Linked DNA regions of Homo sapiens: all the other regions are linked to region 1. Evidence: fine-mapped expression QTL. A gene starts in region 1. Each other region holds a variant in brackets. All regions are shown on one strand. Distances are from middle to middle. Region 1 holds the start of ANXA2 (annexin A2). Region 2 overlaps ANXA2 (annexin A2). Region 3 overlaps ANXA2 (annexin A2).

Region 1 (4,239 bases):
ACTACTTAAATCAGAAATTAGCCAGGAAACTAACGGCCATGACTGCGAGCCTAATGTCAATCAATACCATAGTTTAATAGCTCAAAGACACAAGATGCTAAATATTGAGACTCCAGTGCAAGACTGAGCTCCTAATCAAAGTCAGTGAGTCAGCAATATTTCCTGGGCATTTACCACAGGCAGTCTAGTTGGCACTGCGGGAAATTACAAAATCTAAACGGTCTCCAAATCACAAACCTCCAATTGTAAAAATGCACATACATGTCACATCCTTCCACTGCAGATGCAAGGGACATTTTTGGACAAACCCTTGACCTTTAGATAATCGACAGACTTGGAAGAAGGGAAGAAATTACTAAGCAGGACTGTGTTAACACTCCTGGCCCTTGCCCATCAAGGGCACCTCTGCTGCCCCAGTCTTACCAAAAATCTTCCTTAATATTGCCTGAATATTGCTGCTTTACATTCTATAAATTATAGATCTGTTTAGGTGAACGAGGGTTTTTTATTATTATTATGTATTTATTTTTTGAGACTGGGTCTTGCTATGTTGCTCACATTGGCCTTGGACTCAAGAGATCCACTAGCTTGAGCAGCTGGGACTACAGGCCCACGACCACGCCCAGTATCGTTGTTTTTTAAATAACAAGACTCCTCTCGGTTGCTGAGGCTCTTAGGACCACCAACCATTCCTAACTTAATGAATATCGATTCAATCTGCTAGTCTCTAGCTGGATGCAGGTCCGCCGAAATGGGAAGGAGGAAGGAATGCAGCGTAACTGGACCGGCCTGGATGGCTGTTGTAATGCGTCACGGAAGAGCCAGAAGAGCGTCTCTAAGGAGGTGGAAGGTGGAAAAAAGAAAGTGGAACAGGGGCAAAGACATAATTTTCCAATTAAAATAATTTACTCAGTGTCAACCTTAAAGCTAAAAAAAGTTCCAGAAAAATATTTCAGTGATTTAGTCTTCCTACACACACATTGCCCCTCACTACCCTCCACCTCCCCACCACCAATCCCATAATCAGGCAGTGCATGTTAAAAAGGTCTTTCAGGGCTAGCCTGGGAACGTCAGCACCTTCTGCAACACTGTTTCAGTGGGAAAGTGCATTCTGCATTCCAAGTCACCAAGTTCCAGACAGGCACAGTAGCACACACGTGTGAACAGAATCCATCAGTACAGTCTGGGGCCCAGGCCTTTGCACACCAACAACTTAAGGTTCTTGGTAATGGCCCAGCGTGCACCCATGAGGCCACTGCTCTTTTACACACGCACTCAGAACACCCACAGCTTTAAAACGGCAATCTTACTACAAAAATGACACTTTGCATTTGCACAGCACTTTGTTTTTTGTGTACTTTACACATTTATTACCTAATGACTGTGTTTTTTGAAATCTCCAATAACTCTGGGTGGTGGTAAGAATAGGCATCCTTAAGCCACCTTCCCAGATGAGGAAACTTATCTGTGTTCCCCTCCTTCTTCTCAACAGCCGGCTGATGGAACCCAAGCCCTCCACACCAGCAGTGGGGCCAGCTGCACAGAGCGGCCAGAAGGGAGAGGCCCCGGGGCCACGCCCTTCTCTCTACTCTCAGTTCCTGACTCATTGTCACATCATGGCGAGTAACAGGACAACCCTCCCCACAGAATCATGGGGGACACTACCTTCCTGAGGCCAATGTGTTCAACCAAGCGGGAAACTCTCCGGGTAGAGTGAAATCCGAAGTTGCTATGCTACAAGATAACCTAGAGCAAGGGGAATAACTGACGTTTTAATGTCTTCTTTTATGGGGGGCTGAGGGGTGCCTACTCACACTCCCCCCTCTCGTCTTCCCCCGCTACTTCCCTCCTGCTGGTCGGTTCAACTCCACAAGCGCGCGTTTGTTTCGAGTACAGTAACTTAGAGCAGATGGGGGGCACTTTCTAGAGGGCAGTGGAAAGCCCACTTGCTACTGCTGCGCCGGGGACCTGCGGCTCCCTGGGCGGCCACGCCCTGCCTCGGCGGCGCCTGGCGCGTCTGGAATGCGGGGCCTCCCTCCGCCCCTCTCCCCACGCCGCCTCGCCCCGCTCCCGCTAGGGCTTCTTAGAGAAGCCCGACCCCCCACCACCTCTGCCCTGCACCCTCCCGGCCCGAGGGCCGGTGGCCCCTCACCCCTGCCCCAAACACCTTGTCCCTGAGCCCCCTCCCCAAAGACTCTCCAGTGCCGGCCGTCCCTTCAGCCCCCTGCCCCCGACGGCCTCCGGGGCCAGTTGCCGGGGCCTCCCTGCCAGGCCGTACCCTTCTTCCCAGCGTCTCCACACCCCGCTAGCTGGCGGCCCATCGCGGGCGGGCAGGGCGCGCCCCGCTTACCTGGGCCGTGCGCCGAGAGCTGAGAGCGTCCCCAAATGCTGAGCAGAGCCGGCTGGCCTGGGTGGGGCTTTTATACCCGCCACATCCTCCCTAGGCGAGGCGAGGCCCGCCCCGCCCCGCCCCGCCTCCCCCTTACACGGCCCGCTCCCACCCCAAGTCAGGGGTGACTCACCCCGGCCCGCCGGCCCGCAGGGACCGCGCCCTGGAACGCTCCCGAGCCGCGCCACGCGGGAGCGGCCCCAGCGCCCCTGGCCCTGCCCTCCGAGAAAGCCCGGCCGAGGCTGCCCCGAGGCCCACAGGGACCCCGTTTCTTCCTCCTTTCCTCATTTTACTTCTTAAGTGCCACGTCGAGCTCTCAGCCTCGGCTTGGGTTAATAAATTAACAAGACTTTAGTAGTAGACTCTGGGCTTGATTAAGTGTTTTTTTTTTTTTTTTTTTTTTTTTGGCGTTAATGCAATGGAGGAAAGAATTGTTCCAAGAAACATAAATCTGGACTCCCCTGAGCTGGGGCTGTTGGCATCCAGCGCCCCATTACCGTCTGCAAACATGTCAGCTTAACCTCTGGCCGCCAGTTCCCGGGGGGCGCCCGGGGAGGGAGGGAGATTCGCCCTGTGCTGCAAAGCCTGGCCCGCCCCGGCCTCCGAGGGCCAGGAAGCCCCGAGCCTGGGCTGGGAGGCCAAAGCCGGGAGCCAGGATCCCACCTCAGTCCCGCCCAGGGTGGCGCCCCTGTCCCTAGCACGGCTGTGCTCCGCTTCTCTCCGCGCCTGGGGCATCTCTGCGCGGCCTCGTAGCAGGCAGTCCTGAGCGGGGTGGGGCCCATAGCTTTGAACCCGGAGTTTCGTGTGTGTGTGTGTGTGTGTGTGTGTGTGTGTGTGTGTGTGTGTGTGTGTGTTTCGAACCCGGAGTTTCAACAAAGAACTTTCCTCTCCTTCTTTCATGACTGCTGGGGTGTGTGTGTGCGTGTGTGGTGTGTGTGTGTGTGTGTGTGTGTTTCTTGCAGCCGTTTAGCCAACTCCCTTGCTCGGTGTTGCTGTTACTCGCTTTTCTTCCGAGAGAGAGAGAGAGAGAGAGAGAGAGAGAGTTTCTTGCAGCACAGAGAGAGAGAGAGAGAGTGAGATAGAGAGTTTCTTGCAGCCAGTTAGCCAACTCCCTTGCTCGGTTTTGCTGTTTCTCACTTTTCTTCCGTGTGTGTGTGTGTGTGTGTGTGTTTCTTGCAGCCGTTTAGCCAACTCTCTTGCTCGGTTTTGCTGTTTCTCGCTTTTCTTCCGTGTGTGTGTGTGTGTGTGTGTGTGTGTGTGTGTTTCTTGCAGCCGTTTAGCCAACTCCCTTGCTCGGTTTTGCTGCTTCTCGCTTTTCTTCCAAGAGTCACGTTGGCAACGTGCAGGCAGACACCTATTTGTTGTATGTGAGACGACGCAAATACTGTATTCGAACCTCAAACTAACAGGAAAGCGACGCTGAGAATCCCGAGGATCTCTGGCTGCGTTTTTTAAACCCCTCCTTGCACACTACTTCCTGCAGCTCTTTTTCCTGGTTTTGATGATTCTGTGTTTCAATCTCCCATTTATCTTAACATCCATTTTTACTTTCCATTTGAGCGTCAATTCACTCCTGGGAATCAGAGAATGATAGCAAGGCCAACAGACATTCAGTGCTCTGCCCACTCGCATAGAGTGACACAGGCAAAGTCGGCCACAGCTGAGGTCTTTTAACCCGCCCAAAGCTTTCTGTTACCCAGCGCTTTCACGAGGAATTATACGCGATGGGCCCTACCACAGAGCCAAATAGAAAATCAAGCAACACTTTGGGTACAATTGCTGATTTACATTTATAGCTCTTCAATTTAGCCTGAAAGCTTCAAAGTCAGAAACAATGTTTATCTGCTTAC
Region 2 (4,239 bases), 22 kb before region 1:
ATGGGACTCAGACCTGTGAGATCCTGGGGCACATTAGTTCTCTTCCTAGGCCTAGGTATCTCACCCCTATAGAACAGAGATAATGATAATACTTATTTTACCAGGATGCAGAAAAGACTGGCTGAGTTAACGACTAGAAACACATCTACTGCCTTCATTCAGCTTCTCTGTCACAAGCCTGGCCCCTGCCTGCATTTGAATTTCTGCCTGTGAAATATGGGGCAAAGAAAGATAGAGAACATTTTTGCCATTGGCACACATGGATGAGTAGTCCAGTTACATGACAAACTCTGGCAGCTGCCAAGAGATGGGAGAGAAAGTAGGCATTGCACAGGGTGAAATGAGGCAGGGGAGTTGGGTGCCTCTCCCAAGCCTGGCACAGCTGGGGCACACAGTCTCAACTCGGGGAAAGTGTAGTTTAGCTAAGTGCCTAAGAAGTGGTTTTGGTCCAAAAATCAGATTTCTTCTATTTCCATTCTGCTTTGATCTCACTTCAGCTGAGTTCCTTAGAAAGGATTTAAGGTATCATCGACTTGGTAATCTCACCGGCTGCTTTAATAATCTAGAACCTTGTCTGCCTTCCATGCAGAATTATATTTCTGAAACAAGCTACAAGACCAGCAGGAAAACACAAAGTACACCACTGCTCAAGATTCAAATCAAATCGTCAGTGAAGGAACATGCATAAAATGCAAGCCCTGTATTGTGCTCTGCTACTCCGTCAGCCTCATGGGACAGAAAATTAAAAAATGTGAACAGATGCGAGAGAAACCAACGCAGCCACCCTTAACTCACTTGATATTGGAGAATTTTCTTGGCATTGCTGACACCAGATTAGAATCTGGTTACTGCCATTGTCCCTGGGTGAAACTGGTATTTGGATTTCCTCAGGGAAAAGAGCTAACTGTTTTTTAAAAAAAGAAAGAGCTGAAGAGAGGCAGGTGATGAAAGCTGATGCTTACAATTAGAAAGGCACCAAGGACTCCTTTTCCAGTGTTTGATAGCTACGTGGCTCAGGTCTGGCACCTACATAGATACATAGACAAATATCACTACAAAGAAAATCTGTGCTGGCAGAGTCACAGGGTGGCTGTGACTCAGCACTGGCCTCTTTGTTCCCAGCACTGCTGTAAGATGAGAAGTCAGTCTAAAGTAAACTTGAACACAGAGAGAAAGGCCTCAGCAACTGGGAAGGGTCCGTTCCCTCCCGTTCCCTTCCAGGAGGGTGAGAAGGCCCTGGGCTACGTGAGTCACAGAAGAGCTCACACTCAGACCTGCTCTTGTTGGTTTAGCTCCTCACTTGCAGCCCTCCGTTAGAGGAGAGAGGCTACTTTTCCCAGCCAGTCTGCCTCTTGGCGCCCTCAAGAGAATATATTTCTAATTGTTCTGCTCAGCCAAATGAATATACCTGGCGTGCAGGTGAAACCAAAAATATCCATCCTGGCTTGTTCTGCAGTGGCATGGGATGTTAGTCTTTTGGCCACAGAAATCTTAAGCAGTTCTATTTTAAAAGTATAAGAAAAAAATAAGTGCAAAACTTCGTGCAGTTATGCTTCTATACTTGCGCTTCTGAGAAAGGGGGGAGAAAAATCACCCACTTTTGCATCCCTTCCGGAGAACACAAATACTGCTAAAATCAAAACTGGCAATAATAATAGGGTAATTCATTACCCTCCCCTTCCAGAGAGAGACCAAAGCTGTACCAGTTTATTGGCACTTACACTAACTCTGGGGTTGTGCTGCTGCTAATTACAGTCTATTTTCTGGAGTCTCGATTCATCCTTTTCTAATTTAGCTGACTCTCCTTTCTAGTTATTTGGACCCATATGGTAAACCATTCACAGCTGTGTTGTACACGCCATCGTATATATTTAACCCAAGGCCAATCTAAACCAAGAGACTCCTACAGATTAAGTCTCAGCAACCTCTTGTTAATTAAGCAGTATTACTACTTTTGCATGACTGTACTCAGTTTCTAACCAGACATAAATTAAGGTAAGTCGTTGCATAGTCTACCTCAGGACGGAGCATACATAAAACAATCCTGCATTTGGTTTAGGCAGCACAGGCAAAAAATACTGAGATCCCTTCAAACTAGAAACAAAGCAGACTTATTTTGATTTTAGCAGTATTGTGCTTCTCCCCCCTTCTCATAAGCACAATAAACGAGTATGTAGAGTATGATGAGAACACAGACCAAGAAATAGCTGGTTCTGCCTTCTCAGAGAAAGCTTGTTGATGCTGTGCACTGGCCCAGGCTGAGAGGTAAATGGGAAC[T/G]GCGCAGATGTTTGAGGTGGGGAGGAAGGAGGCTACACGCTCCTCAAAGAACAAAGGCAGAGGCATGCTCTGTAGAGGGCCGTGAACAGAGCCAGAGACGAGGCTAGAAAGATACTCTGTAAAGGCTGAAGCAGGGAGGTCCCTTAGAAGACAGATGCCATAGGCCAGGCGCAGTGGCTCACACCCGTAATCCCAGCACTTTGGGAGGCTGAGGCAGGCGGATCACCTGAGGTCAGGAGCTCAAGACCAGCCTGACCAACATGGAGAAACACCATCTCTACTAAAAATGCAAAAAAAAATTAGCCGGGCATGGTGGCACATGCCTGTAATCCCAGCTACTCGGGAGGCTGAGGTAGGAGAATCGCTTGAACCCGGGAGGCGAGGTTGCAGTGAGCCGACATTGTGCATTGCACTCCAGCCTGGGCAACAAGAGCAAAACTCTGTCTCAAAAAAAAAAAAAGAAGACGACGACGACAGATGCCATAACAGCTCACAGGAGAGGGGTGACAAGAGTTAGGGGAAGGGGTGAATAAGAGCTGCCTCCCAAGCACTGGAAAGTGAGCCAGGACAGGTATTTTTGGTTTTGTCTGCACACCTGGAGGTATATTCATTCAGTTGAGCACAGCAATTAGGAATATATTCTCTCGAGGGTGCCAGGAGGCAGACTGGCTGGGAAAAGTAGCCTCTCTCCTCTAACAGAGGGCTGCAAGTGAGGAGCTTTAGCTCACACCAAGAAGAGCAGGTGTGACTGACAGTTCGTCTGTGAGAACAGCCTTCGTGACTCCTGCAGCCATGCCCTGGCCATGGCAAGCAGTGCCCCCAAACAGGTCTCTGACCAGCTCTACCCTCCTCGCCATCATCCCACTCCAGGCCTGCTCCTGTGCACCATCCGTGTACTCGACAGCAGCTGATTAAGCCTCCTCCAAGGTGGCCTGCTCCCAGCTCTTCTTCCTGAGAGCACACAGACCACAGGGAAATCAATGGAACATTACATGGAGTGGGTAGCGTCCCGGCACACTCACACACACGTGTGTACACACGGCTACCCCCGTCTAGGAGAGAAAGAGGGCCAGTCATCGTCACATGGTCCTCTGGCTTTTGTTTCTATCAATACTTGAGGTTTATACCGTGTCCTTTGATGTCAAGGAAACACCAACTACTTAGTATTGTCTCTTCCCGATGAAGGGTTAGAGGTGGGAGTGGGGCCAAGGTGTGGTGTAAGCTTCTTAATTACACTTAAGGCAAAAGGCATTCTAAAAAAAGAAGGTAAGATCTTAATTAGCTCATTTTTAAGTGGTTTTAGTTATCCAGTATCTAATAATATCAAGGAGAAGGAGGAAGGAACAAAAGGGTTGTTATCCTTTCCAACTAATGACTTCATTTTTGTTTTTAATTAAGTTTACTGCCTTCCACTATGAAAGTAATACAAGTCATCATAGAAAATTTGCAAAATACAGAAATACAGAATATACTGAAAGCCCAAGAAAGGAAAAGGAGCAATTGCCCACAATTCCATATACAGGCATACCTCGGAGATACTACTGGTTCGGTTCCAGACCATCACAATAAAGCAAATATAGCAATAATGCAAGTCACACAATTTGGTTTCCCAATGCATATAAAAGTGTGATTATATTATATTAAGTGTGTAATAGCATTATGTCTAAAAAACACATAACTAAATTTAAAAAATACTTTTATTTCTAAAAAATGCTGGCACAGAGACAAAGTGAATAGCATTGCCACAAATCTTCAATTTGTAAAAACCATAATATCTACACAGTGCAGTAAAGGAAGGACCATGAAGTGACGTACGTCTGTTTCCATTGCTAATGCCTTTTATTTTTTCTTTTTTGATTAAAAGAAATCATAGGCCAGGCCTATGATTTCACACCTGTAATCCCAGCACTTTCGGAGGCCAAGACAGGTGGATCACATGAGGTCAGGAGTGCGAGACGAGCC
Region 3 (4,239 bases), 50 kb before region 1:
CTGCCCAGCCCCACCAAGGCAGGGAGAAAAAAATCATGTTCTTGATCACAGTGTTACAGTACAATAAGTTTTCATAGCTACATTGCATCAATTACCTTTTATTCCTCAAAGAATAAAATCAAAGTTCTTGTTACCAACTCACAGCCTGCCAGGTACCCTTTTCCTTCTCTTTGCAAAGTAAAATTTCTGGGGAGAATAAGTCAAACCTCCAGATGGTTCTCTTTATTCATGAAACAGTTTGGACAGCTTGACTGAAGAGGACAGGCTGAAATCCAGAAGAAAATGGGACCAAAATTCAAGTGCCCTGGCTGTGAGTTTTGGAAAACACTGGACTGCCATTGCTTTGTATAGAGGAAAAACAGTAGACAGTGTTTGAAACAGTTCTCCAAGCGCCTTTCCTATGTTGGCCTGCCCTTTCAACTTTCCCACATACCTGTTGGCCACACCAGTGGCCAGACTGTCCTGGGCACAGTGGGAGCGTAAGTTTCCCCATATTCACCCCATGGCCTTGTCTGCTCCACACCACTGCTCCCTTTGCAGCCTGAAACACACGTATGATTGAGAGGTAACAATGCCTAAATGTTCACTGATCTGAAACACTGCTCCTGACAGTCTCTGCCCAGCCCTATCAATTCTGAGTTCAGTATAATTTGGGGTTAATGAGAAAGGTCCTGCTTCTTAGGCAGTTCCTTGAACTCTGCCCAAGCACACAGAACAGTATATTCTGTGATTTGGGGCATCCATTTTAATATGTATAGGCAGGACACATTTGATAAAATACCTGATTTTTGCATAACCTGCTTTTTAAGGACTATCTCAGGGGCCTTTCACATACGTTATGGGCCACTAGTGACCCAAGAGCCATGCTCGATCCAAATTTCCATCTAAAGTTTGCCAAAGGGCCAAAATAGCAGCCAATCAGCTCACGGATGTATTTGGTTTGGTCAATGCCATGTTGTTACGACTGTTGTTTGAATTGAATTTGAATGCCTCAAGCAAGGCAGGCATTCCCCATTTTCCCCAGATTCCCCACTTCTGTCCAACCTGCCCATTTCATACATTCATTTCCATTACCTACCTAGTCCCTGCAGATGACTGAGTGGGCCCTGCATCAGCCAGGTGCCAAAAATGAGTAGTTGACACACCCTCCACTAAGGAGAAGGGTTAGGAGGAGTAGTCAACTTCCCCTCACTCCCAGCCCTCTACCCTGCTTATGGGGAGCACTTGTATAAAAAGGAATCTGCAGAACCCAGTACCAGCAGCCTGGGGACAGCACCTTCACATTTATGAACACAGATAGATACATATATATACATGCGTATGCAGTCTATCCATGAAAATGTACTGGAAACCAGGCGACTCCAGGGAAGGCCACTGGCTAGTAAGGGAGAGACATAACTTTCCCTGTACAGAAAGAAGTCTCTGAACTTTTTGACATGTGTACCATTGTATCAGCGACCTGTCATTCATTCCCAGACCCTTAAGAACCTGCATGGAGTGCTTTCTCCCAGCTGTAAAACCTCACCTTAGATTTTAGTGTGCAGCTCAAATTGTTCCTTTTCTCTATCATCTTTCTCAATCCTCCCAGTCAAAAGAAATCCCTTCTCCGTGCTTCCCATCGGCTTGTGTTGGATCTCCTTTGCCAGAATGCTGTAGCCTGCCCCACCCTGCCCCACTGCTCTCTCCAGTTTGTGGCTGCCCCTGATGCTTATTTTCACCTAATTAACCTGTAGAAAGATAAGCAGATAAGGGGTCCCTCTGGGACCCTTTTTCTCCCCCATAGGTCCTCTCATGCCCTGGGCATGTACTGCTGCCCAACAGAACTTTCTATCGAAATGTTCCCTGCCTGCGCTGTCCAGATATACTAGCTGCTGACCACATGTGAAAGCTGAGCATTCGAAATGTGGATTGTGTGACTCAGGAACTGATTTTATTTTATTTTATTTCATTTAAATTTAACTTAAATAGCGACACTTGGATAGGGGCAACCATACTGTACAGCTCAGTCCCAGAGCTTTCTTCCTACAGGGACAGCCTCACCAGCTGAACCCCAAGCACGTTTAATTTTCAAACAATTCAGTTGAAAGCAGGGCCACAAAGTACGTGTTTCTAAAGTACAAATTCAGTTTATTCATCTGTTTATGACACAGTACACAGGAGGCAAAGTGTTTCACATCATAGACTT[C/T]ACTTCCAACTCCTTGGAATGTTCATTTCTTTGGCTTACAGGAGAGACTAGACAGGAAGGCCAGGCAATGCTTAGGCAACTAAAATGAGGTTGGGGGTAATGCTAACGTCACCCTCACAGGGATGGCCACGGGGACTGTTATTCGCAAGCTGGTTTTCTAGACCTGTTAGCTGGAAGCATGGTGAGCACCATTTCTGGACGCTCAGGCCGTGTCGGGCTTCAGTCATCTCCACCACACAGGTACAGCAGCGCTTTCTGGTAGTCGCCCTTAGTGTCTTGCTACAATGGCCCAGGAAAGAAAAGAAACGTGGTATCAGAAAAAAGCCCAGACTCCTCAATAACACAGAAGTAGCCTCAACGCACAATGAAGCTTCTCCCATGACAAAGAGAAGACTCTGCAGGAGACCTGCCCTGATACAAAGGCCTGGAAGGCCACACCCAAACCATTGCCAGGGAAGCCTCCAGGAGTGTGGTCGGAGGAGGTGCTGGGGAAGACACTCAAGGCTCCTTAGGACTGTGGGGTGGAGGGAGTGCAAGGTGCTGAGGATTGACATAGGTTAGTGACCAGGGCTGTTCTTACTGCAGCAAGGTCCTACAAACACCCTAACTTTCCTCTCTCGTCCTCGTCTTTCCACAGAAAACAGGGTACTTTCCTAGCTCACTCTCCTATTTCCTGCATTATTAAGGTCAAGTGGAAATAAGCTGGTGAGGTGAGGAACAATTACTAAGAGTCTAACTGGTCCTTTGACTTTAAACATGTGCCCTAATAAACCTGGCTACAAAAAATCCAGCTCTAACTTTATCCTTGCTAACCATGGGCATGCCTTTGGACATCTGAGGAACTTCTAGAAAGGGGAATTGCAAGGGCTGTCTGAAATCTACACAGTGGTACCACTGTGAATGCCATCACTTCCTTACTGCAAATGCGACATCACATCAAAACAGACAGATGCTAAACTGATTGGAGAGATGGGAGTTCTGAATAACTGAAAGTTGTTAGGCCTATCCCAGAGGATTTTTCAAGGAACCAATGCATAATAAAAGTAAAATGTGGCCGGGCGCAGTGGCTCACGCCTGTCATCCCAGCACTTTGGGAGGCCGAGGCGGGCGGATCACGAGGTCAGGAGATCGAGACCATCCTGGCTAACACGGTGAAACCCTGTCTCTACTAAAAATACAAAAAAATTAGCCGGGTGTGGTGGCGGGCGCCTGTAGTCCTAGCTACTTGGGAGGCTGAGGCAGGAAAATGGTGTGAACCCAGAAGTCGGAGGTTGCAGTGAGCCGAGATTGTGGCCACTGCACTCCAGCCTGGGCGAGAGAGCAAGACTCCGTCTCAAAAAAAAAAAAAAAAGTAAAATGTAACTGATCTTCCAAGCCTCTTCGGGATGTCAGCAAGCCTTGCAGGATCATCGTCATGAACACCGATGATCATTGTAGAGTAACAGATGTGAAAAATATAAAACATCTGCCTGATTGTACAAAGTCCAGGACAAATCACAAATGGTGCTTTCAAAATAAATCCCTGATAGTTGATGACTAGCATCTCTTCCCCAGAGAGTCAGAAAACAGAAAATCGCCACTCTGTCATCATTCTGCCAGGCCACCTGCCAGGGCCCGGGGTGCTCTGGACGGCAGGGCAGGCTGACACTGCACCTCGGGCTTACCTGGATATAATAGTACAGGGACTTGCCGTACTTTCTCTTGAATTCAGACCTAATTTTCAACATGTCCACTTCACTGCGGGAGACCATGATTCTGATCAGGACCTTATCTCGCGTCCCCTTGCCCTGAAAATCAAGTTGATATTTGTTACATTCGCTGAGAATGTTATCGTTAAAGAAAGCGTCTACAGGTTGAGCATCCCTGATCTGAAAATCTGAAATCTAAAATGCTCCAAAATCCAAAACTTTTTCAGTGCCGACATGATGCCACAATGAAAAATTCCACATACAGCACTTAACACAAACTGTTTCATGCACAAAATTATCAAAAGCGTTGTATAAAATTACCTTTAGGCTATGTGTGTAAGGTCTATATAAAACATAAATGAATCT

Evidence for each region.
Region 2: its variant is fine-mapped to the expression of ANXA2 in tibial artery (GTEx, PIP above 0.99).
Region 3: its variant is fine-mapped to the expression of ANXA2 in whole blood (INTERVAL, PIP above 0.99). The same link has a PIP of 0.9 or more in monocytes after LPS.

What each region holds. Positions count from the first base shown.
Region 1 is chr15:60,395,593-60,399,831 of GRCh38, forward strand. ANXA2 (annexin A2) reads right to left here and starts at 2,394. Exons shown (of 13, transcript NM_004039.3): 1 at 2,351-2,394. RefSeq lists enhancers at 740-1,331, 1,332-1,923, 1,417-1,466, 1,527-1,576, 1,597-1,786 and silencers at 1,947-2,086, 2,157-2,696, 2,817-3,126.
Region 2 is chr15:60,373,657-60,377,895 of GRCh38, forward strand. The region is part of intron 3 of ANXA2 (annexin A2); the gene reads right to left. Among named protein-coding and RNA genes, the nearest start is that of ANXA2, 22 kb to the right of the region's middle. The variant T/G (reference allele first, on the strand shown) is at 2,278.
Region 3 is chr15:60,345,226-60,349,464 of GRCh38, forward strand. ANXA2 (annexin A2) reads right to left here. Exons shown (of 13, transcript NM_004039.3): 12 at 3,850-3,972; 13 at 1,926-2,464. The coding sequence ends at 2,405. Among named protein-coding and RNA genes, the nearest start is that of ANXA2, 51 kb to the right of the region's middle. The variant C/T (reference allele first, on the strand shown) is at 2,186.